2 separate regions of the Homo sapiens genome follow, and region 1 is linked to region 2. A link means that fine-mapping ties the variant in region 2 to the plasma level of a protein whose gene starts in the linked region. Region 2 holds a variant in brackets. A gene starts in the other region. All regions are shown on their reverse strands.

Region 1 (15,742 bases), not on the chromosome of region 2:
ATCTTTTTTTTTTTTTCATCTTTTTACTTTCTTTTTTTTATTTTTATTTTTATTTTATTATTATTATACTTTAAGTTTTAGGGTACATGTGCACAACGTGCAGGTTTGTTATGTATGTATACATGTGTCATGTTGGTGTGCTACACCCATTAACTCGTAATTTAGCATTAGGTATATCTCCTAATGCTATCCCTCCCCTCTCCCCCGACCCCACAACAGTCCCCGGTGTGTGATGTTCCCCTTCCTGTGTCCATGTGTTCTCATTGTTCAATTCTCACCTATGAGTGAGAACATGAGGTGTTTGGTTTTTTGTCCTTGCGATAGTTTGCTGAGAATGACCGTTTCCAGCTTCATCCATGTCCCTACAAAGGACATGAACTCATCCTTTTTTATGGCTGCATAGTATTCCATGGTGTATATGTGCCACATTTTCTTAATCCAGTCTATCATTGTTGGACATTTGGGTTGGTTCCAAGTCTTTGCTATTGTGAATAGTGCCGCAATAAACTTACGTGTGCATGTGTCTTTATAGCAGCATGATTTATAATACTTTGGGTATATACCCAGTAATGGGATGGCTGGGTCAAATGGTATTTCTAGTTCTAGATCCCTGAGGAATCGCCACACTGACATCCACAATGGTTGAACTAGTTTACAGTCCCAGCAACAGTGTAAAAGTGTTCCTATTTCTCCACATCCTCTCCAGCACCTGTTGTTTCCTGACTTTTTAATGATTGCCATTCTAACTGGTGTGAGATGGTATCTCATTGTGGTTTTGATTTGCATTTCTCTGATGGCCAGTGATGGTGAGCATTTTAGTCCTCCTTGGGAAGAAACCGTCTTTAGAAAAATAGTGTGATAGGCACCTAGAAAGCAATTGAGACTCAGACCTCTAAGAGAGTAGAGGGCCTCATGCATAAAGTGAGGGGTGGAATATGTTTGTTATCCCCATAGATAGAGGAGCCAATGAGAGAAGAGTGGAGATTACAGGGAAGAAGGGAAGAGAGGTCAGCAAGATGGTGGGAAGCTGGCACTAGAGAAGGTGGGAGTCTATGGAGCGCTCAGTGAAGAGGTGGTCAGAATATCCCAATAAAATAGTAACATCCACCCTTCCAGTCACAACTTGGTTATTTTTCTGGTTGTAAATATGACTTTAGTCACTCCTTTACCCCCAAACTTTAGGTTCACATTTACTGGGTGTGTGGTGAAATTCAAAAAAGGGGCTGTTTTTCTTTTGCACCAACCTAGAGCCACACAGACACAACATACTAGGAATGTGGCAGTTCTATGGGTTGACCAGGCCAGGAGAATATAAACATCCTTAGGAATTCCCAGGCACCCTGAGGTGGGCTCTGAACTTCCACAAGCTGGAGAAAAGCAATTTTATCTAGAATTTTGATAGACCAGGATTCACAGCAGGCATTTGGGTTATGCTTCGTCTGGAACCCAATCTGACTTGGGTCAGTTATTCTGTCCCCTCAAATGTTCCTGTGGTTGTCACCCCACTTTTCAGTATTTCCCTGGTTAGAGTCAGGTAAGAATCAAATTGAAGCATTTTAGCCAGAGCATAGCCTATGCGTCTGTCTCAAGAGGGCAATACAGCTATTTGGCATGATGTGAGCTTAATTCTAGCCTGGGGAAGTACAACGTGGAGAAACTTCTGCAATAAAGCTTGCTTGTTGACTTGTTGATGGCAAAGCTTTGTTTGTGGGTGTTGTCTGAGAAGGAGGTTTCAGGCCTTTATCGCCTATTATGATGCTGTTCTGAGTACTCTATGAAAGCTGGTACCTAGGTAAGTGGGTGGGACTTGGGGGTTGTGGATGGAAAAGAGACTGCCTAACTGGTGCTGGTCTACTTCTGTGATAATGATGTTAACAAGGAAATTCTGTTGCTGGCTTGCGTCAGATGTGTTATCTGGATTTAATAAATAAAGAGAGGATAAATGTTGACAGAGTTTTTATTCTTCTCGTCAGTACAGAGGTGTAACAGGAGTTTACCTCTATGTGTCCTTATTCTACTTACAACCATTATTTCTCCTACCAGAAAATTGGGGATGGGAATGCATGTGTTGGTGGGGGCTGGGGGTTCACCAGAGCATAAGGTAACAGCACGGGATGCAGAGACACAAGATCTGAATTCTAAGTCTGGCTCTGACACTAACGCTGCTTGTGACCTTGGTTAAGCCTTTCAACTTTAATACTAAATAGTTGGAACAAATGATCACTAGCTCTGCCCACCCCCCTCCACCCACCCCCGCCGCCCTTTGCTCTAACATTTTTTTATTCTGATTTTCTCCTGGCATGGATGACTCTTCAGTACATATTTGTCTAGTGGTTTTGGCATTATGACTGTTCACTAATCGCCTTGATAAATTCTGAGGAAATTATCTCTACAATCAGAGGTAAAAATGAGGGAAACTTTTTTGGGAGTCAAAGGAAATGTTGAAGCACTGAAAATAGCATAGAATGATGGAATTTGGATGGGAGATGGTATTGTGAGGACAGGGCTTTGCAGTCCCAAACCAGGATTCTGCCTGATGTTTGCAGATCAGCCTCGCTGTTACTGCAGTATATGGTATCCGCCATTGGAGAGTGCCCGCACCCAGGATGTACGTAAAGAAGTAGAGGTTAAAACAGGAGTGACTGCCCAGTGTTCATGGACAAAATGACATGTGTACATTGAGAGGAAAAGTGTAGCTTCCTTCTAAATAGATTCCCTCCTAGGCCAAGACAAGAAGGAATGCCATGTCCTCAAATACCTGCTCTTCTCCATGGGACTGGGTTGGAGGGGACTGAGGGAGGAAGAGTCAATGACAAGTCGATGATTCTGAAATTATGTGCATCACAGCTGAGGCATGTGGGTGACGTATTTCATACCATGGGCATCAGAAGTGACTTCCTGCTACATAGACAGCATGTCATCTCTAAGAGCTGAAAGTGGAATGTGAAGGCTGTGGACGGCTCACAGGCCATTGGTGGTCAGCGCTCCCCGAGGATAGATCAATAAGGGTCAAGAAAGAAGTGTGGATGACACCTCAACGAACCATACCTCAAATCTGCACTGCCCCCCCCCTCACCCGAGATGCTGTCTCTCCCTCTTCTAGGAGATGGCAGAGGGGGTAGTGCTAAGAGTAGAATCCAGAAAAGGGTCCTACTTGGAGGGTGACTTGGATTTCTGGCAGAAGCTGGGGCATCACTGGAGTCATAACAAGTGCTGGAAGGGAGCTGTCAACTGTGTCCAGTTGGCTCAAAAAATGGAAGCTTTGCAATCTTCCAGGGCAAAACAACATCAATGTCTGAGAGAAGCATACACAAAGAAGGTGTAATAACACTGTCTATTGGTGGAATGGGTGCAGTAGCAGTAAGTGCAAACAAAATCTGAGTGGCTGCAGCTAAGCACAGATATGACCAATTCCATTAGTGGAGGCTCTGCCAAAATATACACACCCAAGATAAGAATAAGACCATTTGTATACTATGAAACTGCCCGATTATTTGCCAGTTCCTTCCTTGTATAAGGACAGATCAGTGCCAAAGGAGAATTTTCTTGGCCTCAATATAGAAATACCAAAAGAGAGCTGACCTTGGGTCAAAAGGGTTACCAACGTCTGGTTATGGCTTAAAAAATAAAAGAAAATAAAAAAAAGCAGGGCTTACCCTGCCAAGATATGAAGGTAGGAGAATTTCACAAGTTGAACTATTATGTACTTTAGCTATGCTGGCCAGGGCTGTGGCGTTAATAATTTTGCTTGTGTGTTACACTTTCAAATATTCCTCTGCAATGAGTCAGTTAAGCAGGCAACAGAGTTTTGCTGTTGTCACTCAGGCTGGAATGCAATGGCGCAATCTTGGCTCACAGCAACCTCTGCCTCTCAGGTTCAAGCAATTCTCCTTCCTCAGCCTCCTGAGTAGCTGGGATTACAGGCACCTGCCAACACGCCCTGCTAATTTTTGTATTTTTTAGTAGAGACAGGGTTTCGCCATGTTGGCCAGCTGGTTTCGAACTCCTGACCTCAAGTAATCCACCTGTCTTGGCCTCCCAAAGTGCTGGGATTACAGGCATGAGCCACTGCACTCGACTTAGGAGCTTACCTTCTAGTCCAGGGATGCAAGGTGGAGACTCCAGCAAAATTTAAAAGTGTATTATAGTGTACCAGAGATGATATGGAAAACTAAAGCAAGTAGGGGGGATGTGGAGTGATGAAATGTAAGATATGGCTGTCAATGAAGGCCTCACTAAGAAAGCAATGTTAGGGCAAAAGTGAGAATGAGGTGATGGAGTGAGTCTTGAGGAAATCTGTGCAAAGAGCATCCCTGGCAGGCAGAGAGAACAGCAAGTGTGAAGACCCTGAAATGCAAGACTGCCTGGTCTGCAAGGAGGCCAGTGTGCCTGGAGCAACATGAATGATGGGGAGAGAAGGTGGTGCAGATCATGAAGGTCTCACTGGCTGTTGAAAAGACCTGTGCTCTGACTACGGGAGATGAGTTGAGCACGTGTGGACTTTATATAACTTGTATTTTATAAGGACCATTTTAACTGCAGTCTTCAGAACAGACTATAAGTGACAAGAGGAGATGCACAGAGACAGATAAGACACTGGTGATTATCCAGTCAAGAGATAGTGATGGCTTGGATGAGAATGATAGCAGCAGAAGGGGAAGAAGTGCCAGACTATGCATATATTTTGAAAATAGAGCTAACAAGATTTGATGACAAATTAAATGTAAAGTGTGCAAGGTAGGACTCAAGGATAACTCTTAGGGTTTTGATCTGGGTAACTGGAAGGATGGAGATGCCCTTTGCTAATATGGGAGAGACTGATGGTATAGCTAGTTTGGGAGGGATGATCAGGAGTTTAGTTTGGGACATGTTCTGTTTGAGGGCCTATTGAACAACTGAAAGGAGATATCAAGTAAGCAGTTGAATACGTGGGTCAGGAATTCAGGTGAGAGGTCTATGATAGAGATAGACATTTGGAAGTCATCAGCACAAAGATTTAAGCCAAAACTAGTAGAGATCACCTGGGAAATAAGTGTCAACAGAGAAGGGTTTCAAAGACTGAGCTATGAGACACTCTTACGTTAAGAGGAAGAACCAGCAATGGAAAATGAAATGCAGAGTTTAATTTTGCTTGCTTTTATTGATAACCCATTATATACCAGCACTGTAATACGAGCTGGGCATAACATAAATAAGACTAGTGCCTGCCTTCAAGGTGCTTACAGTCAATGCATTAGATGGATTGTTTGAATGCAGTGTGGTAACTTCAAAAAGACATGCATCTGGCAGTGTGGGATCAGGGAGAAGAAATACTTGGCTCAGGCTGGGAGAAATAGGAGGGTCCTTGGAAGAAATAACACCTGGAACTTAAAAAGAGACTAAACGTTACCTGTGTGAAGAAAGGAGAAGGGCAGAGTGAAAGAAGGGCAGAAGTGAAACAGCTGGGAACATGCTGGAAAATATGTATTTATTTGGTGCTGAAATTTCTTCCTGAGAAAGTAGGAGCTTTGTCTCTAATGAGACTGTACCTTACAGCCATGAGAGACATTTCATATTAACAAAGTGATAACATGACTGGTAAATTATTCTCTCTACGTTTGCAGTTGGGTTCAAGAAATTTGGGTTCAGCCACCAACACCAACGTTTTAGAATTCAAGAAAACGGCTGCTGTGACAGTCAATTCCAGCCGTAGCTACGACAGGGCAGGGTCTCTCCATCCACAGTTCATTCTGGGTTGCCGCTGAGGCCATATGGTGGTTGCATTTTTTATTTGCTTTTGTTTTCATTGTAATGTGTGTGCAGCAAGCACATAGTGTTCCTAACAACAAGCAGGGAACTGTGGGCGAGAAGAATTGCTCCTCAGGGAAGGAAAGGGACAGCCACTTTGACAACGCCCATTCCATGTTAGACAGCCTGCTGCACCCAACAACCAAAATACGAGCAGGAAAAAAGGCAGCATTTGCCCAGGAACTGCATCCCTCAGCAGGCTCTTTTTAAGTTAGGGTGTATCCAATCTAACGTGTAGACTACAGTTGAGAATCATTATCTAGAAGTGGAATAATAACATTTTGGAGTTCATCCTCTTCTTGCCCAAATACTCTGGTCTCAAGCCTAAGTCCTGCTGGTGGTTGCTGACTTGCTACAGGCTGATAGCATGACAAGAAGGGAAGGCAGCTGGAGGGGAGAGAGGATGAACTTGGAGGCATTGGAGCCCAGGGCTCCAGAGAACAACAAACAGTTACTAAACTCTTCCTCTTCAGTTTCAGCAGAGTCTATAAACTCAGTACTATTATTATCCCACTTTCACACACAATAAAACTGAATCTCAGGGCCAGGAGCAGTGGCTCACGCCTGTAATCCCAGCACTTTGGGAGGCCGAGGCTGGGGATTACCTGAGGTCAGGAGTTTGAGACCAGCCTGGCCAACATGGAGAGACCCTGTCTCTATTAAAAATACAAAAATTAGCCAGATGTGCTGGTAGGCACCTACAGTCCCAGCTACTGGGAAAGCTGAGGCAGGAGAATCGCTTGAACCCAGGAGGCAGAGGTTGCAGTGAGCCAAGATCGCGCCACTGGACTCTAGCCTGGGAGACAGAGCGAGACTCCGTCTAAAAACAAAACAACACTGAATCTCAATAGGGTCAAGTAATGTGTACCCGGCCACATATAATTGGTGGGACTAAAGCATCAGTTCCTACAGTCTGACTCCAGAGTCCTTTCTTTGACACTATGAGGAATTCCCTGAAGATACTCTTGGGACTACCTGCATGGGACTCACCCGAAGCACTTATTTCCAATGCCGATTCCAAGCCAGGCCTCATTCATCAAACTTTCTGTGGGCAGAGCTCCAGAGTAGAGAGTCAAACAGCATTCCCCATCCGTGTTCTGACCTTGGGAAGGGTTCTCCTTGGGCCTCAGTTTCCTCTTTTGTAAAATGAGGATCAGTGAGGTCACTTCCAGTTCAAAAATGAGCTGACTATAATTCATCTTTAAACCCAGCAACCTGGATGCAGCCTGCCAACCAGGCCTTTACCATATATCTCCTTATCTTTAAATATCCATGCTATTGAGCGGTATTTTAAGTACCACTAAATTTATAGTTTGATACACAAATACTCACAGAGTTTCCCTGGAAACCTAGGAGAACTGGACGTCCCTCCAATATGGCATTTTTGAGGTACAGCCCTCCCGCGGGGGAGGACTAAGCAACTTCTCTAGGTCTCTTCTCTTCTGCGGATTCTTTTTTTCTCTGCTTTCTTGGCACTGCTAAAGACAAAGAATTCATCGATAGTCTTAATTTTCCTTCCTCTCTGAAGTTACAATCTAATTTAGTGGTCATCTTTTAAAAGTTGAAACCAGACATCCTGTACTTCTCATTAGCTCTAACCTATGTTTGGTTTGCTCTGGTTTTGCTTTTCTGATTTTTTTCTTTGGAGAAAGAAAAGTGAGAACTAGGGGCATTGGCCAAACAAGTCTGTCCACTTGGTGGAGAGGTTTCCAGATAAGAAGGATCTGAAGGACTTCCCATGGGCGTGAGGGAAATCGCACACGCCATCCGGGGAAGAGGACCAGGAAATCACTTTTTGTTTTTAAAACAGCAGCGCGGCTCTCAGGGATGACTCTGTGAGACTGGGAGGATCATAGCTGGGGGAGGCTGAGCGTGGGAGCGGTGCTGCCAGTCCTGCCTGAAAACGCGAAATGAGTCTTGCTTGGTTCTCCCTCCACTGGGCGTGAGAGCCCCTGCCCAGGAGGCCCAGGACAAATGGCCCCATAGTGGAAACTGGGAAGCTTTTAGGCATCTGATCAGAGCGGGAGCCAGCCGGGGGACCACAGTGCTGGACAGGTAACAGACATTTCTCCTACTGCGGTCTGTCATTCTGTCTCCCTTTGTAGCAAGACCTCAGGGGCTCCTAAGTCACTTCTCTTAAGACATCTTCCACTTACGATCCTCTTTGCCTGCTTTTCTTTTGCGTAGGTGTGATATGTATGTTGGGAAAGTTAAGTATGTCCAGTCAAGAGCATTGTGCATACTGTTGGTCCAGTTAATGAGACTATATTAAAGGAGATGGCGTATCAAGCAACTAGCTGGGATCCTTTAGGATTTTCTTAATAACAGACTTTTTTTTTTTCAAACAAGTTCTCTCGTCCTTAAACCAGAAAATACTATAAAAACCAGTGCATTCATGAGCTACTGAGCTGCTGCTCTTGCCAAGAGCATTTCAGGGCCAGTCGGCCATTGCTGTGGTCAGGCTGAGGAAGGAAGAGGCTGCATCCCAGTAGCAGGAGGAGGGAGCCCTGGCTATTCGCTCAGCTTCGGGAGAGTCCTTCCAAAGGACAAGGGATGACCTTAGAAATGTAAAATGTAGGCTGCAGCCTCCCACACAGGACTGAGGGGAAAGGAGTTTGTAGTCAGCATTAGGAAGGAGGTCAGTAAAAGTGCTGGGGCTTCAGGGCCAGGCCGACTTGTTTTGAAAGGAGCAACTCTATGATGTGCGGTTTGCTTAAACCATGTTTTCTCATATTTCAGAAAGCCAGGTCATGCCACTTCACTACAGCATTTTTTCTTTCATAAAGGGCTAACGTAGTTGGTTTTTCAATGTAGGTTATTTTTGAATTACACAGATAATACTTGACTATATTCTTATCGTAAAAGAATATCTCTAAATAGATTTTATTTTTATTTTTATTTTTTTGAGATGGAGTCTTGCTCTGTCGCCCAGGTTGGAGTGCAGTGGCACGATCTTGGTTCACTACAACCTCTGCCTCCCGGGTTCAAACGATCCTCCTGCCTCAACCTCCCAAGCAGCTGGGATTACAGGCACCCGCCACCACACCCTGCTAATTTTTGTATTTTTAGTAGAGATGGGGTTTCACCATGTTAGCCAGGTTGGTCTCGAACTCCTGACCTCAGGTGATCCACCTGCCTCGGCCTCCCAAAATGCTGGAATTACGGGTGTCAGCCATCGCAGCCAGCTTTCTGTTAACAGTTTTCAATTGCACCCCCAATATACACTCTCTTCCCCCCCCCCAAATATTATTCTATCAATTGTTTTCTGTGTTACCAGTTAAAGGCTTTATTTTCTGTTCTTCTGAGCTCTATAGGACAAGCCGGGGCACAGGAGTACAATAAATTCTCATTGTCAAGTTCTTGTGATTTATCCTAAACTCCTTCCTCTCAGTGAAAGATAAAATGATACATGGGAAACATGAATAGCTCTTTTAACTCTTAGAAAAGTATAAAGAGTTTTACTCATTTTTACCATTACTATTTTGTGTTGGTTTTGGCTTTGACAATTAATAATATTAGTAACAACCTCCTAAGGATTAAATTCTAGATTTGCCAATTAGTGGTTTGGGCTTTTCCCTTGAAGGGCATCAGAAGTTTCTTATTCTAGAAATGAAAGGGGAGAAGATAAAATAACAGGAAATTAACTAGATAGATAATAGCTAGATTGATAGATAAAGTGGCCCAGAGAACGTAGAGTGAAGACAGGAGAGATTGCCCTTTTATTCAGTGGATAATAAATGCATTTAACAGATCGGTTCATTTTCCATCTCTTTTAGTCTTCTGTAAAAAGGTGGCCTTCCCCTCCCCACCAACAATGTTAAGAGACAAGCAAATAAGGAAAACATCACTATGAACAAGTTAATACAGCTTATGGAGAGAGCCTTTGGGAAAAAGGTATAAATAAGCAGTATCAAACCCAAGAATAATACGAACACTTTCAATAGCTATTTCATATTTTCTTGTTCTTTACAGGGTTTCTCCACCCCAAACTATAGAGCCACTAGGCCTTGCTGATTTTGGACGTTCTGTAAAATTTGCCTGCCTTTGTCCCTTCTCCAGATCTCTGGCTACTCCGATGAATCATTTCTTCCAAGTGCACAGTGTTAGCCACATGAGAGACCTCCACTGAGGCCCTGTAGACTAACACTGCCTCACTTACTGAGTGTGGGTTTATTGACTATGATATAGTAACCTCACTTACTGCGCTATGGGGTACTTGGGGGCATTTTGGAGCAGTTAAAAATATCCCATGGGGTCCCACCTCCTCACGTTAATGAGGCTAATCTGTCTCCTCCTAAATATTATGCATTCAATCTCTTGTATTTATATGCAACTTTTTAGTTATCAAAAGACTTTTATGCCTCTTCTTTCACCATGTCACAGGTAAAGCAGGTAACTTATTCTCATCTAATGGAATACAAAAACAGGAAGTTCAGAGGTTAATTTATTTGCCTCAATGGCACAATGAATTTTTTTGGAGGACTGAGATGAGAAGAAACTCAGATTACTGTCTTTGCAGCCCCATTTTTTTTATGTCAGTACTATGAGGATAAAAGTCATGTGGAATAGAGAATTGATGCGATTGGCTGGATTCTGTCAGCTTTGTAGCCACATGGTAGATGTTTGCTGGGAATCTAAAGTTAGACTAAACTATTGCTTTGTCCAGATATTAGCAAGTTCTATCACCTGCTGTCCATCGGCGTCACCCTAGGAACTTAACAAAGAGAAAACAATGTCTAGACACTTTGCCAGAGAAACTGAATCACTATCTCTGAGGATGGGGCCAGGGCATGGTTAGATTTTTTGTTTGTTTGTTGTTTTTAATCTCCAAAGTGATTCTATAATGCAGCTGGGGTTGAGATTCACTGAGTCTTGGCTGTGTAAGATACAGTGGCTAAACTGAGAAGCAGAAGCAATGGCTGTTTATGAAGCCAAGAAATTAGGACCAAAAGTGTCAGCAGCAGTGCAGATCATTAGAATTCTGGCTGCTGCTGTCTTTCGGAGGAACAGACACATCTGCACATCAGAATGAAGAGGAGATTTCCGACACCTCCAACAATGGCATTGACTTTCCAGTTTTAATTGGAACAACCCCACTGACTTCACTGTAGATATGTTGGCTCCCTAAGACTTGCAGATTTTACAAAGGCAGATTAAATGTTCTAGATAAACAGGATGTGCTCTTCTAATGCCAGATGACTATCAGATCATACTTTTTATTCAAGGTCACTTTGCCATGTTGTGTCCCAATCCCAAGAGAAAGGGGAAAAAAAGAAATACTGATTATCCTTTGCATGAGCTGCCACTTTCTGGGTTGAACTAAATATGAATAGATGATAAGTCATGGATGTTTTTTAATTATAACGTTTCCCTACAGCCTTTTCCCCACTGACATTTCTTGATATAGTTCAAGTTAGTATCTCTCGTCAGTGCAATGTTTGTCTCCTTGATAGAGAGGACTACCGGGCCTGTTCAGTATTTATCTCAGTTTCCCCAGGACCTACGAGTTTCTGCACAGAGTAGGTGCTCTAATAAGGATGGTTGAGTTAAATATACATATTAGCTAAGGGCACACCATGATTCACAAGTTACTTACCAGCTCAACATTTCAAATCACATGGTGTGACTCTGGTCATGATGGTTAAAATAACTGGAATCTTCCCGGCTTCCTAAAAGGTAATCGCCAACGTGAAATCTTTAAAATTACAGCCTAGTAGAATCACCTACTCTGGAGTGACTTGCTAAGTGCTGTGGAATTGCAAAGGCAAAGAACCTTTCTCTTAATCAGCTCAGACTCTTAGTGGAAAGCAAGTTACAGGCATTGAGAATTTTAATAACAAACAATTTTTTTGATTGAATTTGTTTTAATTATTATACTTGAAGTTCTGGGGTACATGTGCACAAGGTGCAGGTTTGTTACATAGGTATACATGTGCCATGTTTGTTTGCTGTGCCCATCAATTCCTCATTTACATTAGGTATTTCTAAGAGAAAACCAAACACTGCATGTTCTCACTCATAAGTGGGAGTTGAACAATGAGAACACATGGACACAGGGTGGGGAGCATCACACACAGGGGCCTGTGGGGGGCGGGTGAGGGTTAGGGGAGGGATAGCATTAGGAGAAATAACAAACAATATTTATCGAGTATTTGCTATGTGCCAGGGACCATACTCAGTGTTTTATAAACATGATTGTTAACCCATTTAGTTGTTCCAATAATCCTATGCCTCAAATAAAATCATAATCCCCATTTTATAGATGGGGGATCCAGAAAAGTTAAGTAAATCACTTGAGACAAAAAGCTAGCAAATAGAGGCACGTTAAGATTCCATCTCAGGCAGTCTGACTTCAGAGTCCATATGCCTAATTACCGTGCTATGCCTGAAAAACACACAGTGCTGAAAAGTGATCCACATGGCAGGACCAGATGAGTAGCTGAGGAGAGAAATGCGGTTCATGCAGTGGAAAGATATATCTCTGGGGAAGACAAAATAAGAGACAATATGCCATAAAGGTCAGAGTTCAGACTTTGGAGACAAACTTGGCCACTTGCCAAGTGTGTTTGTTTAGCCAAGGCTCAGTTTCTTCATCTGTAAAATGAAGATGATGATACTTCTCATAAACAGGATTATAAAGATTAAATGAGTCTAGTGCATGTATAGTGCTTAACCTAATGCTTGCCATATGGCAAGTGTCTGACACACAGCAAGTGCTTGATAAATTATAGTAATTGTTGTTACCAAATGAATAAGCAAGACCTGAAATAATGAGTAAAGCTCAGAAAGGAGAAATAGAGCATTTCAGTTACCAAGAATAGCGCGAGAAGAAGCTGCAAGGTAGCAATGCATTCCACTAATATTGTCTCTTAATATTTATGACAAAAGAAGGTACAATAAAAGCTGGGAGTGGGTCAGTTTGCTCTATACTCAAGTGTTATGGGAGAAAAATTGACAGAGCTCATTTTACATTAGGTCGTGGTGATCATGCTTGCCTGGTGAATTGGCTTAAATATTCTCTGGGCATTTGCAAACATTTAAAGTATTTAAATATGATCTAGCCACAATTTAGGAAGAATAGTGCTCTGGGCAAATAAATTCCCTGCTGTTGTGTTGGATTATTGGTCAGGGAAGAAAGGAGCGAGGGGCCCATTCAGGAGATTATTGAGACCATCTAGATGTAAGATGATAATGTCCCAACCAATGTAGTGGCCCAATGTCCAAAAAAGTGTGGTGAGATGACAATATCCAAACCGATGAGGGGCTCTGAGCACATCAGCAGCAGGTAACAGGACTTAGTACCCGGTCGAATTGCTGCTTCTGCTCCTGCACCACTTCTTGTGTCCAAGGACACCTGTGAAGCTGTGAGCCTAGGAAACAATGAAGCCAGCAGTTGGCACATCTGGGAAGGGATGGGTTAGGAGAGAGCAGTGGGACAGGAGACAAGTTCAGTTTTCGATGATCTGAATTTACACTCAAGTGGAAAGAGTATAGTTGAAAAGCCATGCCTAATATGTAGCAAAGAGAGGAAATAGGCATGCAGAGGAAAGAGATATCTTTGGGGACAAGAAAAGAGGCAATATGCCATAAAGGTCAGAGGCTGGAAATACAGTTCTGGGAATTCTCACATAAACTGACAATTAAAACTATGGAAGTGGATGAGCTTACTATAAGAAGGTGTCAAGAGAGAAGAGCTGTAGACCCAGGAGAGGTATTTGGCAGGGCGCACAGTGAGGCAGCTGCAGGATGATGAGGATGGGAGCATAGAAGGAGAAAAGGCATAAGCTCGGGAGCCTTGAGAACCAGGAAAGGGAAAGGGAAAGGGAGCGCTGCAGAGGAGGAGGCCATGCACAAATGGAGCAGGTACCCACCGCAAGCCAGGGAGAGTGAGGACTGGGGCAAATGTTGTGGGTTTGCCTCTACAGAATACTTTTCATAATGAGGTGAGGACTAAAGTCAAACTGTCCAGAGTAAGGAAATCTTGAACTAGCAAGGACTTTTCAGGGTACTGTATTTCTTGGGGTTGGGGGTGGGGGGATAAAGTAATATTTTTTTTTTCATTCTGAATAGCACACACATTATATGGTTAAAATCTAACAAAATCCCTGAAGAAGGAAATGAAGATTTAGAAGAGAAGTCATTGGCTAAGGACAGCAAAGCCATTTCTCAGAGAGATGGAATGGATGGGGGCCATAAAGGGAGGAAGTGCAGAAGGCTAAGGTGGCCCTGCCAATTACTGTAATGTTGGAATATTTTAAGCCACATTGCAAATAACTGCTTCCTCCAGCCCCTGGAGTGCCTCCCCACCTCTTCTTTAGTCATCCAGTCCCTTTCCTGGGATCCTACACAGACTTCCCTACAATCCAGCAATGACACTGCTAAGGTCTAGCCCAGCAGGAGACCCCCAGGCCCTGCTCCTGCACAGTGGACAGAGATTGTTCTGATTGGTCCATTATTATTATTATTATTATTATTATTAAAATAGTCAAGTATTATTTTGGAGCTTACCTAACACATGGTAGAACCACAGAACTGTGAAGCTTGAGAACAACCTAATGTAAAATGAGCTTTGCCAAGTTTTCTCACATAACATTTGAGTATAGAACAAACTGGGCCGGGTGCAGTGGCTCACGTCTATAATCCCAGCACTTTGGGAGGCCGAGATGGGCGGATCACTTGAGGTCAGGAGTTCAAGACCAGCCTGGCCAATATGGTGAAACCCCATCTCTACTAAAAATACAAAAATCAGCCGGGCATGGTGGCATGTTCCTGTAGTCTCAGCTACTTGGGAGGCTGAGGCAGGAGAATCGCTTGAACCCCAGAGTCAGAGGTTGCAGTGAGCCAAGATCATGCCATTGCACTCCAGCCAGGGTGTCTCAGTGAGATTCCGTCTCAAAAAAAACAAACAAACAAAAAAAATAAAAACAAACAACAAAAACCTGACCCATTCCACAGGGCTTCCCTCCGTCTGCAATTGGAATGCACCCCTGGGCATTGTTTTGCCATGGCTTAGGGAAACCCCTCCACATGGTGAATTAATGCAAGACGGACTAGATAAGAGCAGTTAGGAACTCAATGTTTTCACATAGATGGCAATCTTTTGCTTAAAGCCTAAGACCCACAGTGACTTAACAACAAGAAAAGAGGGATAAAAGGTTATCAACGCCGCCCACATGTGCAGTGTGTTTTGGAAAACTTGATCCTATTGTGTACAAACAAATGTTCCCCTGTAATCTGATAGTACTGAACTGCCCTGACACAATGCTGCTGCAGGGCCTGATTTCAAGGCAATGGAAAATTAAATAGGAAAAAAAATGTCTTCAAGGCAGTTCTTTAATTGTTATTGTGTCCCATGTTTGTGTTAAATAAATATTTAGCTTATATTTTTGCTTGTGCAGGAGATGAATCATCTAATCAAATAAGGTCAGCAAAGATAAGTCTTACCACCTCTGCAGCTGAAAATACAGATTTATGAAGGCAGGCTCTTAAAGTTACACTTAAGGGTTTTTTAATCTGTACTTCTACAGTTCAGGGAGTAGGTTGCTGATGGCATTCTATCCTTATTGCAACTCTGTATCTCATGGAGATGAGCAGAGTAATAATCATAGTAAAATTTGCAATGATAGTCCTCCTGAAAGTTGGCATTGCCATCTATCATCCACCATTAAAAGTAACTCTATTCTTTAGTAGTAGAATGCTTGTATGTGCTCATCTATTTTCAGGCTCATTTAGTCTCTATTTTGATAAGTATATGTTTGCAAAAGGGCTGCCTGATCGTAGTCTGTATCCCAGAACACAAGGTTTGGGAGACATTAGGGTATATGCCGTTGGCTGTTTTCAAAGGTCACAATAGTGTGTCTAGTTAGCCAGATGCAGGCCAAGGTTTAGTAAGAGGTATGATTTCCCTTGATTTTGTACTAATACAGTTAGTTCCTTTCTTAAAGAGAAAGCTATG
Region 2 (14,517 bases):
AAAAAAGGGGAGGAAAAGAAAGAGAACAGAGAGGAAATACGTAAAGTAGGCTGAGAAGGAAGAAGGGAAAATTAAAGAGAAGGCGAGTTTAGGACCACACAGCCCAGCGGCCTTTGGAAAGGTGGCTACTTGTGAGTTACTGTGAAGGGGTGGAAGGAGCAGCACCTGAAATTCGGTGTGGAAAGTTGGGACCCCAGGTGGGGGTGGGGGTGGCTCATTGTCCTGGCCAGGGTGGCCCATGTGTCGCTTTGTGCACCCCAATGCAGCTCAGTTCACCCGGGTGCAGTATTCTGTGTTTGTTCATCCAGTGTTTTTCAAAGACAAAATCTCACATGAGAAAGTGCGACATTCACATTATGCAATTTATTCCCTGATAAAGGCACATCTTGTTTTTTTAAGATTCACTTTATAGCACTGCACAGATACAGTGTATTTTACAAACTGAAGGCTTATGATGTCCCTGCATTGAGCAAGTCTATTGTTGCCATTTTTCCAACAGTGTGCGCACACTTCATGTTTCTGTGTCAGCATTTTTTGACAATGAAGTATTTTTGGTATGTACATAGTTATTTCAGACATAATGCTATTGCACTTAATAGACTACAGTATAGTATAAACATGACTCTTTTTTTCTTTTGTAAAGATAGGGTCCTACTTTGTTGCCCAGGCTGGTCTCAAACTCCTGGCCTCAAGCTAGCCTCTCACCTTGATCCCCACAAAGTGCTGGGATTACGGGTGTGACCCACCAGGCCCAGCTAAATATAACTTTTTTTTTCTTTTCTTTTTTTTTTTTTTTGAGACAGGGTCTTGCTCTATCACCCAGGCTGGAGTGCAGTGGCTCAATCTCACTACAACCTCCTCCTCTCAGGTTCAAGTGATTCTCCTGCCTCAGCTTCCCAAGTAGCTGGGACTACAGGCGTGCGCCACCACACCAGGCTAATTTTTGTATTTTTAGTAGAGACCGGGTTTGGCCTGTTGGCCAGGCTGGTTTTGAACTTCTGACCTCAGGTGATCCACCCGCCTTGGCCTCCCAAAGTGTTGGGATTACAAGCTTGAGCCACCACGCCCAGCCTAAACATAACTTTAAAAAAAAATGTTTATTTTAGGTTCAGGAGTACATGTGCAGGTTTGTTATATAGGTAAACTCGTGTCATGGGGGGTTGTTGTACAGATTATTTCATCACTTATGTACTTAGCCCAGTATCCAATAGTTATTTTTTCTGCTCCTCTCCCTCCTCCCACCCTCCACCCTCAGGTAGGCCCCTGTGTCTGTTATTCCCCTCTTTGTGTCCATGAGTTCTCATCATTTAGCTCCTACTTATAAATGAGAACATGCAGTATTTGGTTTTCTGTTCCTGTGTTAGTTTGCTAAGGATAATAGTCTCCAGCTCCATCTATGTTCCTGCAAAAGACATGATCTTGTTCTTTTTTATGGCTGTATAGTATTCCTTGGTGTATATGTACCATATTTTCTTTATCCTATCTGTCATTGATGGGCATTTAGGTTGATTCCATGACTTTGCTATTGCGAATCATGCTGCTATGAACGTTCACGTGCATGTGTCTTTATGGTAGGATGGTTTATATTCCCCTGGGTATATACCCAGTAATGGGATTGCTGGGTTGAACGGTAGTTCTGCTTTTAGCTCTTTGAGGAATCGCCATACTGCTTTCCACAATGGTTGAACTAATTTAGATTCCCACCAACGGAGTATAAATGTTCCCTTTTCTCTTCAACCTTGCCAGCATCTGTTATTTTTTGACTTTAATGATGGCCATTCTGACGGGTGTGAGATGGTATCTCATTGTGGCTTTGATTTCCATTTCTGTAATGATCAGTGATGTTGAGATTTTTTCTTTATGATCGTTGGCCACATGTATGTCTTTTTTTTTTTTTTTTTTTTTTTTGAGATGGAGTCTCACTTTGTCACCCAGGCTAGAGTGCAGTGGTGGGATCTCGGCTCACTGCAAGCTCTGCCTCCCGGGTTCATGCCATTCTCCTGCCTCAGCCTCCAGAGTAGCTGGGACTACAGGCACCCGCCACCACGCCCGGCTAATTTTTTTGTATTTTTAGTAGAGACGGGGTTTCACTGTGTTAGCCAGGATAGTCTCGATCTCCTGACCTCGTGATCCACCCGCCTTGGCCTCCCAAAGTGCTGGGATTACAGGCATGAGCCACCGCGCCTGGCCTTCTTTTTTTTTTTTTTTTTTTTTTTGAGACAGAGTTTCACACTTGTTGCCCAGACTGGAGAGCAATGACACGATCTTGGTTCACTGCAATCTCCGCCTCCTGGGTTCAGGCAATTCTCCTGCCTCAGCCTCCCAAATAGCTGGGATTACAGGCATGCACCACCATGCCTGGCTAATTTTTGTATTTTTAATAGAGACGGGTTTCTCCATGTTGGTCAGGCTGATCTTGAACTCCCGACCTCAGGTGATCCACCCACCTTGGCCTCTCAAAGTGCTGGGATTACAGGCATGAGCCACCGCGCCCGGCCCATATGTCTTCTTTTGAAAAGTGTCTTTTCATGTTCTTTGCCCACTTTTTAATGGGGTAGTTTGTTTTTGTCTTATAAATGTGTGTGTGTGTGTGTGTGTGTGTGTTTTGAAATGGGCTCTCACTCTGTCCCCCAGGCTTGAATGTAGTGGCACAATCATGGCTCACTGCAACCTCTGCCTCTCAGGTTCAAGCGATTCTCTTGCCTCAGCCTCCTGAGTAGCTGGGATTACAGGTGCATGCCATTGCACCTGGCTAATTTTCGTATTTTTAGTAGAGACAGGGTTTCTCCATGTTACCCAGGCTGGTCTTGAACTCCTCACCTCAGGTGATCTGCCCACCTCAGCTTCCCAAAGTGCTGAAATTACAGGCATGAGCCACCGTGCCCAGCCTGTCTTGTAAATTTGTTTAAGTTCCTTATAGATGCTGGATATTAGACTTTTGTCAGATGTGTAGTTTGCCAATATTTTCTCCCATTCTGTAGGTTGTCTGTTTAGTCTGTTGATAGTTTCTTTTGCTGTGCAGAAGCTCTTAAGTTTAATTAGATCCCATTTGTCAATTTTTGCTTTTGTTGTGATTGCTTTTGCTATCTTTGTCATTAAATCTTTGCTTGCTCCTATGTCCAGGATGGTATTACTTAGGTTTTCTTCCAGAGATTTTACAGCTAAACATAACTTTGATATGCACTGGGAAACCAAAACATTTGTGTAATTTCACTTGATTGCTATATTTGCTTTATTGCACTGGTCTGGAACTGAGTCTGCAATATCTCTGAGGTATGCCTGTATGTCATCCAGGTGGAACAAATCTGCATTTTTAGAACAAGCAGTAGATTATAGGTTACTGTACTTAAGTTCAATGAGAAGACAATAGCATTTTGCGATTTTTCTTTCTACCTTTCCAATGATAATATCTCATTTAGTCTTGCACTGGAATTCTTTCTTGGCTGTCTTTTGCTAGGTTTGTACTATCTTCAATGTTTTCCATAACCAAAGGCAGCAATTTAACTAACTCATGAAAATACGTATTCTGTAAATTTGGCTGATTCTTTCTGCTTTTGCTATTGCCCATTGAACTATTTTCAGATGCTGTCCAAAGTCCTTACTATGGCCTGTGGGGCCAAGGGGTCTATCTCTCACTTACCCTGCTCCACCCACCTGGCTCTCTTGCCAACCTTTGGCAGCTCACTCGTGCTCAAGAACTTTGCACCTGTGGTCCCCAGGACCAAATGCGGCCTCAGCTGTTCCCTTAACCTACCCAGTCGGTTCACTCCCTCACTTCTTAGGACTCTGCCCCAAAGGTATTGAAGAGATTATAGAGAACTTTCCTGATATACCAAAATAAAATTGCACCTCTCACACCCAACCACATCACTCTATAATGTAAGCTTTTTTTATTTTTTTTTTTTTTGAGACAGAGTCTTACTATGTCAGCCAGGCTGGAGTGCGATAGTGTGATCTCGGCTTACTGCAACCTCCGCCTCCCGGGTTCAAGCGATTCTACTGTCTCAGCCTTCAAGTAGCTGGGATTACAGGTGCCCACCACCACGCCTGGCTAATTTTTGCATTTTTTAGTAGAGACTGGGTTTCGCCATGTTGGCCAGGCTGATCTCGAACTCCTGACCTCAGGTGATCTGCCCGCCTTGGCCTCCCAAAGTGCTGGGATTACAGGCGTGAGCCACCGTGCCCAGCCTCCACTCTGTAAGTTCTTACGTGAATTAATTTTTTTCTATGGCACTTTTCTTTATCTCCATCTGACACATTATATAATTGCTTATTCATTCCTTTAGTGTCTGTCTTTCCCCATAAGAATGTAATCTTCAAGAGAACAGTGACCATATTTTGTTCTTAGGTGTGCCTTTAATGTCTAGCACTGTGCCAGGTACATAGTGAGGTCTCAATAAATATTAATTGATGAATAAATGGTCAGTATGGGTTATTAAGACTGATCCAATTAACCTATGGGAGTGCATTGTTAGAATAAGACAATTAACAACAGGTACTGAGAAGCCATAAATATATGCTTTTAAGATTAACCTCCTGGCTGGGCAAGGTGGCTCACACCTGTAACCCCAGCACTTTGGGAGGCCGAGGTGGGAGGATCACCCTGAGGTGAGGAGTTCAAGACCAGCCTGACCAATATGGAGAAACCTGTCTCTACTAAAAATACAAAATTAGCTGAGGGTGGTGGCGCATGTCTGTAATCCCCGCTATTTGGGAGGCTGAGGCAGGAGAATCGCTTGAACCTGGGAGTTCAACCGCGGAACTTGAACCGTGGAGGTTGTGGTGAGCTGAGATTGCGCCATTGCACTTCAGCCTGGCAGCAAGAGCGAAATTCCATCTCAAAACAAACAAACAAAAAGATTAACCTCCTAATACCTTCTTGTAATATTGTCCTGGGATATAGCATAGTTATAAAAATGCTGTTTCAAAAATGATTTTGGAGAGAAAATATTTAGGAGAAAATGGATATCAACTTAAAATTTGATATCAACAGAATTAAAAATTCCATTATTCCAAAATGGAATTAAATAATATGTAGATGCTTTAAAACTCTAAGAATATGAAAGATAATGCCTTTGTTGGTAATAATAGTAATAATTTTGGAATTTAAGGAAATATTACTAAGTAAATTTACTTTTTAAAAGAGTCACGTAAAGAAACCTGGCAGATATCACTCGAATCAATCAATCAACATTAACTGCAGCAGTAACGGGACACAGTGGCATCATGGATCTCCTGATGAGATGCGCTGAGAAGGACACCCCGTGAGTTTTGTAGCATTCCTGCCAGATTGCATAACCCTGATCTAATTATAAGAGAACAATTAGACACACCTGAATTGAGAAATCCACAGAACAACTGGCCTGTTTTAACAAATGTCAATAACATGAACAAGAAAGAAAGGCCAAGAAACTATTCCAATTTAACCAAGAATAAAGAGACAGGACAGGCCAGGTGCAGCGGCTCACGCCTGTAATCCCAGCACTTTGGGAGGCTGAGGCGGGCAGATCACATGGTCAGGAGTTCGAGACCATCCTGGCCAACATGGCGAAACCCCATTTCTACTAAAAATACAAAAATTAGCCAGGCATGGTGGTGCACACCTGTAATCCCAGCTACTTGGGAGGCTGAGGCAGGAGAATCCCTTGAACCTGGGAGGTGGACATGGCAGTGAGCTAAGATCACACCATTGCACTCCAGCCTGGGAGACAGAGCAAGATTCCGTCTCAAAAAAGGAAAAAAGAAAGGAAGGAAGGAAAAAGAAAGAAAGAAAGAAAGAAAAAAAGAAAGAAAGAAAGAAAGAAAGAAAATCACAAAATGCAATGCATGATCTTGGGTTAGAGGATCATTTTTTAAAAATATAACTAAAAAGGTTATTGGAACAACTGGTAAAATTTGAATACAGATTGTATATTTAGACAATAGAATTGTGTTTGCTACGTACGATTAGTACACTGTGGTTATAAAGAGAGTCTTTGTTCTTAGGAGGCCTATGTACAAGTATTTAGGCATGAAGGGTCATGATATCTGCAACTGACTCAAATGATTATGCAAATAACAATAAGAACATACAGAGAGGTTCAAAGAGGTAAAGCAAATATGGCAAAATGTTAACAATTGGTGCATTTGGTTTTCATTTGATTTTTGAGACAGAGTCTCACTCTCATGCCCAGGCTAAAGTGCAGTAGCACAGTCAGAGCTCACTGCAGCCTCAAACTCCTGAGCCCAAGTGATCTCCTGCCTCAGCCTCCCAAGTAGCTGGGACTCAAGGCACATGCCACCACCCGTGGCTAATTAAAGCAAATTTTTTTTTGTTTTTTTTGTAGAGACGGGTACCACTATGTTATTCAAGCTGGCCTTGAACTCCTGACCTCAAGTGATCCTCCTGTCTCTGCCTCCCAAAATGCTGGGAGTATAGGCCTGAACCTCTATGTCCAGTAATTGGTGCATTTGGATGTATTTTTTTTTTTCACCAAATTTTCTGAGGGTTTGAAATCAATTCTTTCTTTTCTTTCTTTCTTTCTTTCTTTTCTTTCTTTCTTTTTCTTTCCTTTCTTTTTTTTTTCTTTCTTTCTTTCTTTTTTTTTTTTTTGACAGAGTCTTGCTGTGTCACCTAGGCTGGAGTGCAGTGGCGCAATCTTGGCTCACTGCAACCTCCGCCTCCCGGGTTCAAGCGATTCTCCTGCCTCAGCCTCCCAAGTAGCTGGGACTACAGGTGCCTGCCAACATGCCTGGCTAATTTTTTTTGTATTTTTTGTAGGGGCGGGATTTCACTACATTGGCCAGGCTGGTCTTGAACTCCTGACCTTGTGATCCGCCCACCTCGGCCTCCCAAAATGCAGGGATTACAGGTGTGAGCCACCGTGCACCACACCTTTTTTTTTTTTTTTTTTTTTTGAGATGGAGTCTTACTCTGTTGCCCAGGCTGTGGTGCAGTGGCACGATCTCGGTTCACTGCAACCTCCGCCTCCTGGGTTCAAGTGATCCTCCTGCCTCAGTCTCCCAAGTAGCTGGGATTACAGATGCATGCCACCACGCCTGACTAATGTTCGTATTTAAGTAAAGACGGGGTTTTGCCATGTTGGCCAGCCTGGTCTCGAACTCCTGACCTCAGGTGATCCGTCCTCCTCGGCCTCCCAAAGTGCTGGGATTACAGGCATCAGCCACCGTGCCAGCCTGAAATTTTTCAAATTGAAAACTTTAAAAATGACCACCACTGCCAAAAACACCAAACAACCTGATTGAAAATGAACAAAGACGTGAATAGACATATCTCCAAACAAGATGTATGAATGGCCAATAAGCCCTTGAAAAGATGCTCAATATCCCCAATCATTAGAGAGATGCAAATCAAAACCACAATAAGATATCACCTCATACCCATTAGATGGCTACTATTAAAAAATATAAAATAGTAAGTGTTGTCAAAGTACGTAGAGAAACTAGAATGCTTGTACACTGGTGGTGGGAATGTAAAATGGTACAGCTGCCACGGAAAACAGTATGGCAGTTCCTCAAAAAATTAAAAATAGAATTACCGCATGATCTAGCAATTTCCCTTCTGGGTATACACCCAAAAGAATTGTGAACAGGGTCTTGAAGAAATATTTGTCCATACATGTTTAAAGCGGCATTATTCACAATAGCCAAACATGAAAGCAACACATATGTCCACACACAGATTAACGGATAAGCAAAATGAGGCACTACATACATACAATTATTTATTTATTTTTTCTTTTTTGAGACAGGATCTCACTCTGTTACCCAGGCTGGAGTGCAGTGGCATGATCACAGCTCACTGCAGCCTTGACCTTCCAGGCTCAAGCGATCCTCCCACCTCATCCTCCCCAGTAGCTGAGACTACAGGTGCACACCACCATGCCTGGCTAATTTTTGTATTTTGTAAATTTTGTATTTTTGTATTTTTTGTAGAGATGGGGTTTCACCATGTTGCCCAGGCTGGTCTCAAACTCCTAGGCTCCACCTGCCTTGGCCTGCCAAAATGCTGAGATTACAGATGTGAGCCACAACACCCAGCCTATGCAATGAAATATTATTCAACCTAAAAAAGGGAGGAAATTCTGACACATGCTACAATATGGATGAACCTTGAGGACATTATGCAAAGTGAAATAAGCCAGTCACAAAAAGACAAATAGTGTCTTATTCCATTAATATAACATCTAGAGTAGTTAAATTCTTAGAGATGGAAAGTGGAATGGTGGTCGCCAGAGGCTGAGGGAGGGAGGGATGGGAAGTATTGTTTAATGGGTACAGAGTTTCAGTTTTGTGAGATGAAAAGAGTTCTAGAGATGGATGATGGTGATGGTTGCAAAACAGTATGAATGTACTACCATTTGATACATTGAATGTAATACGATTGAACTCTACACTTAAAAATGGTTAAGATGGGAGATATTATGTATGTGTAGTTTACCAAATAAAATTCTTTTTCAGTAACTGAAGAGAGAAAAATATTTGCAACCATTACAATAACAATTGATTCTAGTAAGAGTCATTAATGGGGTTAAAATTAGAGGGTAAAAGTTTAATGAAAGAGAATATTTATGTAGTTTCCAATTATCTGTTTCCAATATATTTATTAATTAGAAAAGAAAACCTAGTAATTTTACAGTGGAGAAATTAGGAGGTATAAATGTACCAGGTGATCAAAGTAAACACTATCAGCATTAGGACAAATGGACATGTTCCTCCTGATATGTTGCACTAGGAAGGACACAATATCACTTCTCTGTTACTGCTGCCAAAATTTATGCAAAATCTGATCTAATTATGAAGGAAACACCAGACAAACCCAAACTGAGGGACAGCCTACAAAATAACTGGTCTGTCCTCTTAAAAAATGTCAAGGGCCAGGCTCAATGGCTTGTCCCTGTAGTCCAGCTACTAGAGAGGCTATGGTGAGAGGATCATTTGAGTCCAGGAGTTTGAGGCTATAGCATGCTGTGATCACATCTGTGAATAGCCACTGCACTCCAGCCTCGGCATAGCTAGATCTCATCTCTAAAAAAAAAGTTAAGGTCATGAAAGATCAGGAATGACTGAGGAACTCTTTCAAGTTGAAGAAGACTGAAAGTGCATGACAACTGAATGCAGTTTGTAATCTGGTATTTTCTTTTGCTATTAAAAGACATTATATTGACATCTGGTGAACTCTGAATAAGAGCTGTCAATTAGATTATAGTATGATATCAATGTTAATTTCCTTATTTTGGCAATTGTGTTATGGCTAGGTGAGAGAATGTTCTAGTTTTAAAGAAGCATATACTTAAGCATTCAGAGGTAAAGAGGTATCATGTTTGCAACTTACCCTCAATGGTCCAGATAAAAATTTATGTATATATATATGTATCGATGTGTCTGTGTGTGTGTGCATGCATGTGTGAGTGTGTGGAGAGAGAGACAGACAGAGAGAGAGAAAGACAGAGAGAAAGCAAACATGGCAAAATGTTAATATTAAGGAAAATCTGAGTATATGGGATATGGGAATATAAGGGTATATGGAATCGTTTTGTATTATTTTTGCAATTTTTATGTAAGGTTGAAAATTACATAAATCAAGATTAAAAATTAAAATAACAACAAAAGGCAAGTGGAACCCCAGCAGTGAATGCTGGAGGTCTGATGATAATGAACCAGGAAAACGTTCATGGGAAAACAGGATGTAGAACTATAGGAATTAAACTTTACCCTGAAAAGCTTGGCATCTTCCCAAACATAGGTGGACATAATTGTGTTTTCCCAAGGTACTTTTTATCCTAATCGCCTTTGAAAACAGAATAAAGTGAACACCAAATCCTGCTTCACTCTCATCCTTTGTCAGAGTGTTTTTTTGTTTTGTTTTGTTTTGTTTTGTTTTTTGAGACAGAGTCTCGCTCTGTCGCCCAGGTTGGAGTTCAGTGGCGCGATCTAGGCTCACTGCAAGCTCCGCCTCCCGGGTTCATGCCATTCTCCTGCCTCAGCCTCCCGAGTAGCTGGGACTACAGGCGCCCGCCACCACGCCTGGCTAATTTTTTGTATTTTTTTAGTAGAGGCGGGGTTTCACCGTGTTAGCCAGGATGATCTCGATCACATGACCTCGTGATCCGCCCGCCTCGGCCTCCCAAAGTGCTGGGATTACAGGCTTGAGCCACCGCCCCCGGCCAAGGGTGTCATTTTTATCTGAGATCACAATTGAGTGTGGGTTGTTTAAAATACTCATGAATTGGCCGGGCTCGGTGGCTCACGACTGTAATTGCAGCACTTTGGGAGGCCGAGGTGGGCGGATCACGAGGTCAGGATATCAAGACCATCCTGGCTAACATGGTGAAACCCCGTCTCTACTAAAAATACAAAAAAAAAAAAAAAAAAAAAAAAAAAAAATTGGCCGGGCGTGGTGGCGGGCGCCTGTAGTCCCAGCTACTCGGTAGGCTGAGGCAGGAGAATGGCGTGAACCCAGGAGGCGGAGTTTGCAGTGAGCCGAGATCGCGCCAGTGCACTCCACGCTGGGCAACAGAGCGAGACTCCGTCTCAAATAAAATTAAAAAAAAAATTCATGAATTAGGCGAATTCCCTGGAATTGGAACACTAATACATTCACATCTATATGACATCTGGAAAATAAAAGAAAGCTCCATGGCCATACATGGTCAGTTACCAATCCTCACAGGAGAGTGAGATTAGAACAAATGCCTCCTTCAGAGCAATAGCCAATTGAGCTATTTTCCCACTCAGCTGCCTGGACTTTTGTCTGAATCGTCAGAGAGAAGAGTTACCTTGGGGCCGGGTGTGGTGGCTCACAACTGTAATCCCAGCACTTTGGGAGGCTGAGGCAGGAGGATCACCTGAGGTCAGGACTTCGAGACCAGCCTGGCCAACATGATGAAATCCCATCTCTACTAGAAATACAAAAATTAGTCGGGCGTGGTGGCATGCCTGTAATCCCAGCTACTCAGGAGACTGAGGCAGGAGAATCACCTGAAACTGGGAGGTGGAGGTGGCAGTGAGCCGAGATCACGCCACCGCACTCCAGCCTGGGTGACTGAGGGAGACTCCATCTCAAAAATCAAACACACAAAAAAAGAAAAGTTACCGTGGCTTCTTATAGACACACAGCCTGAGACCTGCTTCTTAAATTTTGTGTTTCTGCCTCATCAGGATGACAGCCATCAAGAAAAGAGTATAAATCTCAAAAGAGCAAGGTTTCATTTTTTTTTAAAGCTGGTATATTACAGAATTATGGGTACCATTGGTACTGCAGATATCAGATGATTCTTAAACATATCAGTGAGTTCTTAAATGGTTAAGAACTGTGCACATTATTAATGTGTATGCAGCATTGGGCTAGGCTCTGCGAAGTCAGGAAAACAAATAAAGCACATGGGCCTTGCCCCCAATGAGCTCTTATCCCCGAAAAACATACGAAATGACTAGAGAAAAAGACCGAATTATTATATACACTTAGAAAATGTCCAGAGCACAATATAAAAGTAAGTATTCGATGATGAATGTGTTTGGAACTACTAATTCTAAAGGAGTGACAGGGACACACTGTCCTAGTAGGAGACACAGCATCAATATTACGTCCTACAAGGACTGGGCAATGTGAGGCGAGTGCAGGGCTATAAATAGTAAATGACAGAGAATTTACCGTATATACTGGACTTACTCAGGCCAAGAGATACTGATGAAATAAAGGAGCACAAGCATGCACAGATAGATCGTGAGCATTATGTATAAACAATGGAGCAAATAGATCTTGTGGGTGGAAATAAAGGGAGAAACCTTTCCTTCCATAGATGGGCAGGATGGCGCGGCAGAAAGAATAATAGCTTTGGTGTCGGACAAACTGGATTCAAATCCTAGCTCTTTCACTACCTGTGTAAAACTGGGCAAGTTATCTAATCATTGCAAACCTTGTTTTCACTACATAGGGCTACTAGCTTGTGCAGTTATTAGTATTAAATTGAATGCTACATTAAGCATCTAGCAGAAGCAGCATTCAACAAGCGATATCTCTTGTTGGTTTGTGTATTTCTTAAAGCATCGCACTGTTATTGTTGTGTTTGTCTCCCTGATAGATTGTGAGCTTCTCAAAGAAAGGACTGTGCCTTAACGGTCTTGGCATTTTGAATTTCTAGTATAGAATCTGGCTCATGGTAGATTCTCAGTAAATATTGACATAATAAGAATCACGAAAACTGTACATTTAGGTAACAACGATGGTTTGATATTAACGGAATACTTACTTTGTGCCCAGCTAGGAGCATTTAATGAATCACCTTATCTAATCCTCACGACAATCCTTCGATTTTAACTATGAACATCCCATACAAGTGACAAGGATATTGAAGCTTAGAAACCTGCCCGTGCTTATACAGCCAGTAAATGGAGAGCCTTGACCTCAGCCAGGTTGGATTCAGGCTGTGCTGAACCAGCAAAGTAGAGAACTGCTCTCCTCCTGTAGTTGCTGAGGAAAGTCCCATGGATGGACCAATAGGAGTTTCAGAAGCTGCCTGAGTACCAAAAAGGGAGAGAATTCGTGAGAAGGGTAAGAGCATTCCAGGCACAGACTACAGCTTCAGAGACAGCTCTGATGTGTGACAGAGGCTGGGGTGGGGTTTTTTGAAGGAGGAGTGTTGAAGGCACAGGCCAAAAAAGGCCTACTGAGCTTGGGGTTTCCCTCAA[C/T]CACAGGGCATGGGGAAGTCGTGGGGCCCGTGTCACGTGCGGGTGAAGATAGAGAAGAATCTCCATACAGAGATCCTGTAGCAGCTGAAACAGGCAGTGCTGGGGCCCAGAAGCCCAGAAATAGTCAGAAACACAGATGGCATAGAGTAGAGTCAGAAGTGCTTCTGGGGAGCAGGCTGGGGGCTCACAGTGCTGTATTGTTGGGAGGGAACTGAAGGAAAAGCACCATATTTGACAACAGACTGCAGGCTGCAGTAAAAGGTAGTAAACAGAGGGCACTTAATGCAGTGGTTATAAGTGGGGTCCTTGCAGCTGGAACACCTAGGGTCACTTACCGGCTCCCAGCTGCATGACCTTAGCAACATGACTTAACCTCTCTGGGCCTCTATGCCCCTTCTCTGTAAAACAGGGAAGGTCTGTTTCCTAGGGTTACTGTGAGTGCAAAATGAATGAATACTTGTAGAACACATGCTGTCTCTGATGGGTAATAAATGTTATTTCTGATGGCGAATGAATTCAAAAGAAAAAGACAAGTTCTCATGAGTAAATCAAAAGTGTTTTGCTTAGAAGGCATGTTTCCTTTGCTTTTTCTTCCTGTCTTTGCTGGTTCAGAACTCATGCCCCCTAAATTTTATACAGAATTTGCTGTTTTCTGAAAAATTATTATAAACTAGGTTCAAGGTCGTTACTTTTAGCTGCTGACAGGAAACGGGGACGTCCTGTTGACCGCTGATAGGTCTGACATCAAACATATCCAACTCCAGCTGTCCCAGATCCTCTTCCCTGACGTCAAAAGGCAGTACTGGTTTTCCAGTCCTCCAAGTGCAAACCCTTGAACTCAATTTTAACTTCGTTTCTTCTCCTCTTCAATGCCAATCTTATAATCAGGATTTGCTCCTTCTTTCATTTCAATGTTTTAGACTTGGTCCTCTAATAACTTACCTGTCTCTACTTTCACCCTAGTGCCAAAGTAACGATCAACCGATTATTCAGGATACCACTTAAATCGCTTATCTCCCTTTGTCAAGAACTTTCAATAGTTTCTTCTCCGAGTGACAGAGCGAATTCAAATTCCTAAATTTGTGATTCAAGGCTGTACTTCAACCGGTCCCTCCCCACATCCTCTGCTGGGGGATGGTGCCCTGAATAAACCCAGCTCGGTCCTCCACCTCCCTTCTCTGCCGCCTGATGACATCCCATTCCTTCCAGAGCACCCGGGTTGATTCCCGCCGTCCCACCTGCAGCTTTCCCCGCCAGTTTTTCCAGCCCTAATGTCTTTGATGACTTGGGGCCCCCATCTGACACTGGCTTGTGTTGTACACTGGTGACTTTGCCTCGGAGGGTGAGACCCCGTTTCCTGGCGAACCTCCACAATAGGGAGCACAGGATCAGGCACTCAAAAAACGCGCAATGAATGGGTGGATGAGCCCATGAACGTGTTGGTGGCTCTGTCCCTTGGCTGATTCCCAGCTCCCACCCCGTCTTCCTACCAGGGTCAAGCGAATTGGACCCCGGACGCGGCCGAGCGGCAATGGGGTGGGCGCCGTTCCTGAATCCGGAGCGTTTCCACGTCGCCGGCTCTCCACGACCCAACCCTAATCAGAGGACCACGGTGCGGGTCCCGCGCTCTGCTCCCCCTCCCGGAGGCGCCGTTCGCTGGGAGTCGGGCTGGTTTCGAGAATCGCAGGCACCGGCGCCCAAGGCGGGAGGTTCGGCTTCGCCCCTCGCCCTCCCCCTCGCGGCCATTGGGCTGCCCCGCGGCGCGCCCGCTGGACGGGGCGGGGCCCTCCGCTCTCCCCTCCGCTCCCCTCCCCTATTTCCCGGGGT

Direction of the effects. Positions count from the first base shown, and alleles are read on the strand shown. Strength reflects both the effect of a copy and how common the allele is.
In carriers of allele T in region 2, the plasma level of the protein whose gene starts at base 7,617 in region 1 tends to be lower than with C alone (moderate association).

The links. PIP is the posterior inclusion probability: the model's chance that the variant is causal. The UK Biobank Pharma Proteomics Project read protein levels with antibody pairs (Olink). The fine-mapping took linkage between variants from a reference panel, not from the people measured, so its PIPs are less certain.
Region 1: ADGRF5 starts here. The variant in region 2 is fine-mapped to the plasma level of the ADGRF5 protein (UK Biobank, PIP above 0.99).

The regions. Positions count from the first base shown.
Region 1 is chr6:46,913,813-46,929,554 of GRCh38, reverse strand. It overlaps ADGRF5 (adhesion G protein-coupled receptor F5), which reads left to right and starts at 7,617. Exons shown (of 21, transcript NM_001098518.2): 1 at 7,617-7,842. LOC105375080 (a long non-coding RNA gene) reads right to left here and starts at 7,476. Exons shown (of 3, transcript XR_001744147.2): 1 at 7,120-7,476. RefSeq lists an enhancer at 1,980-3,179.
Region 2 is chr1:236,065,191-236,079,707 of GRCh38, reverse strand. No RefSeq gene overlaps it. Among named protein-coding and RNA genes, the nearest start is that of NID1, 7.4 kb to the right of the region's middle. RefSeq lists a silencer at 14,358-14,517. The variant C/T (reference allele first, on the strand shown) is at 12,691.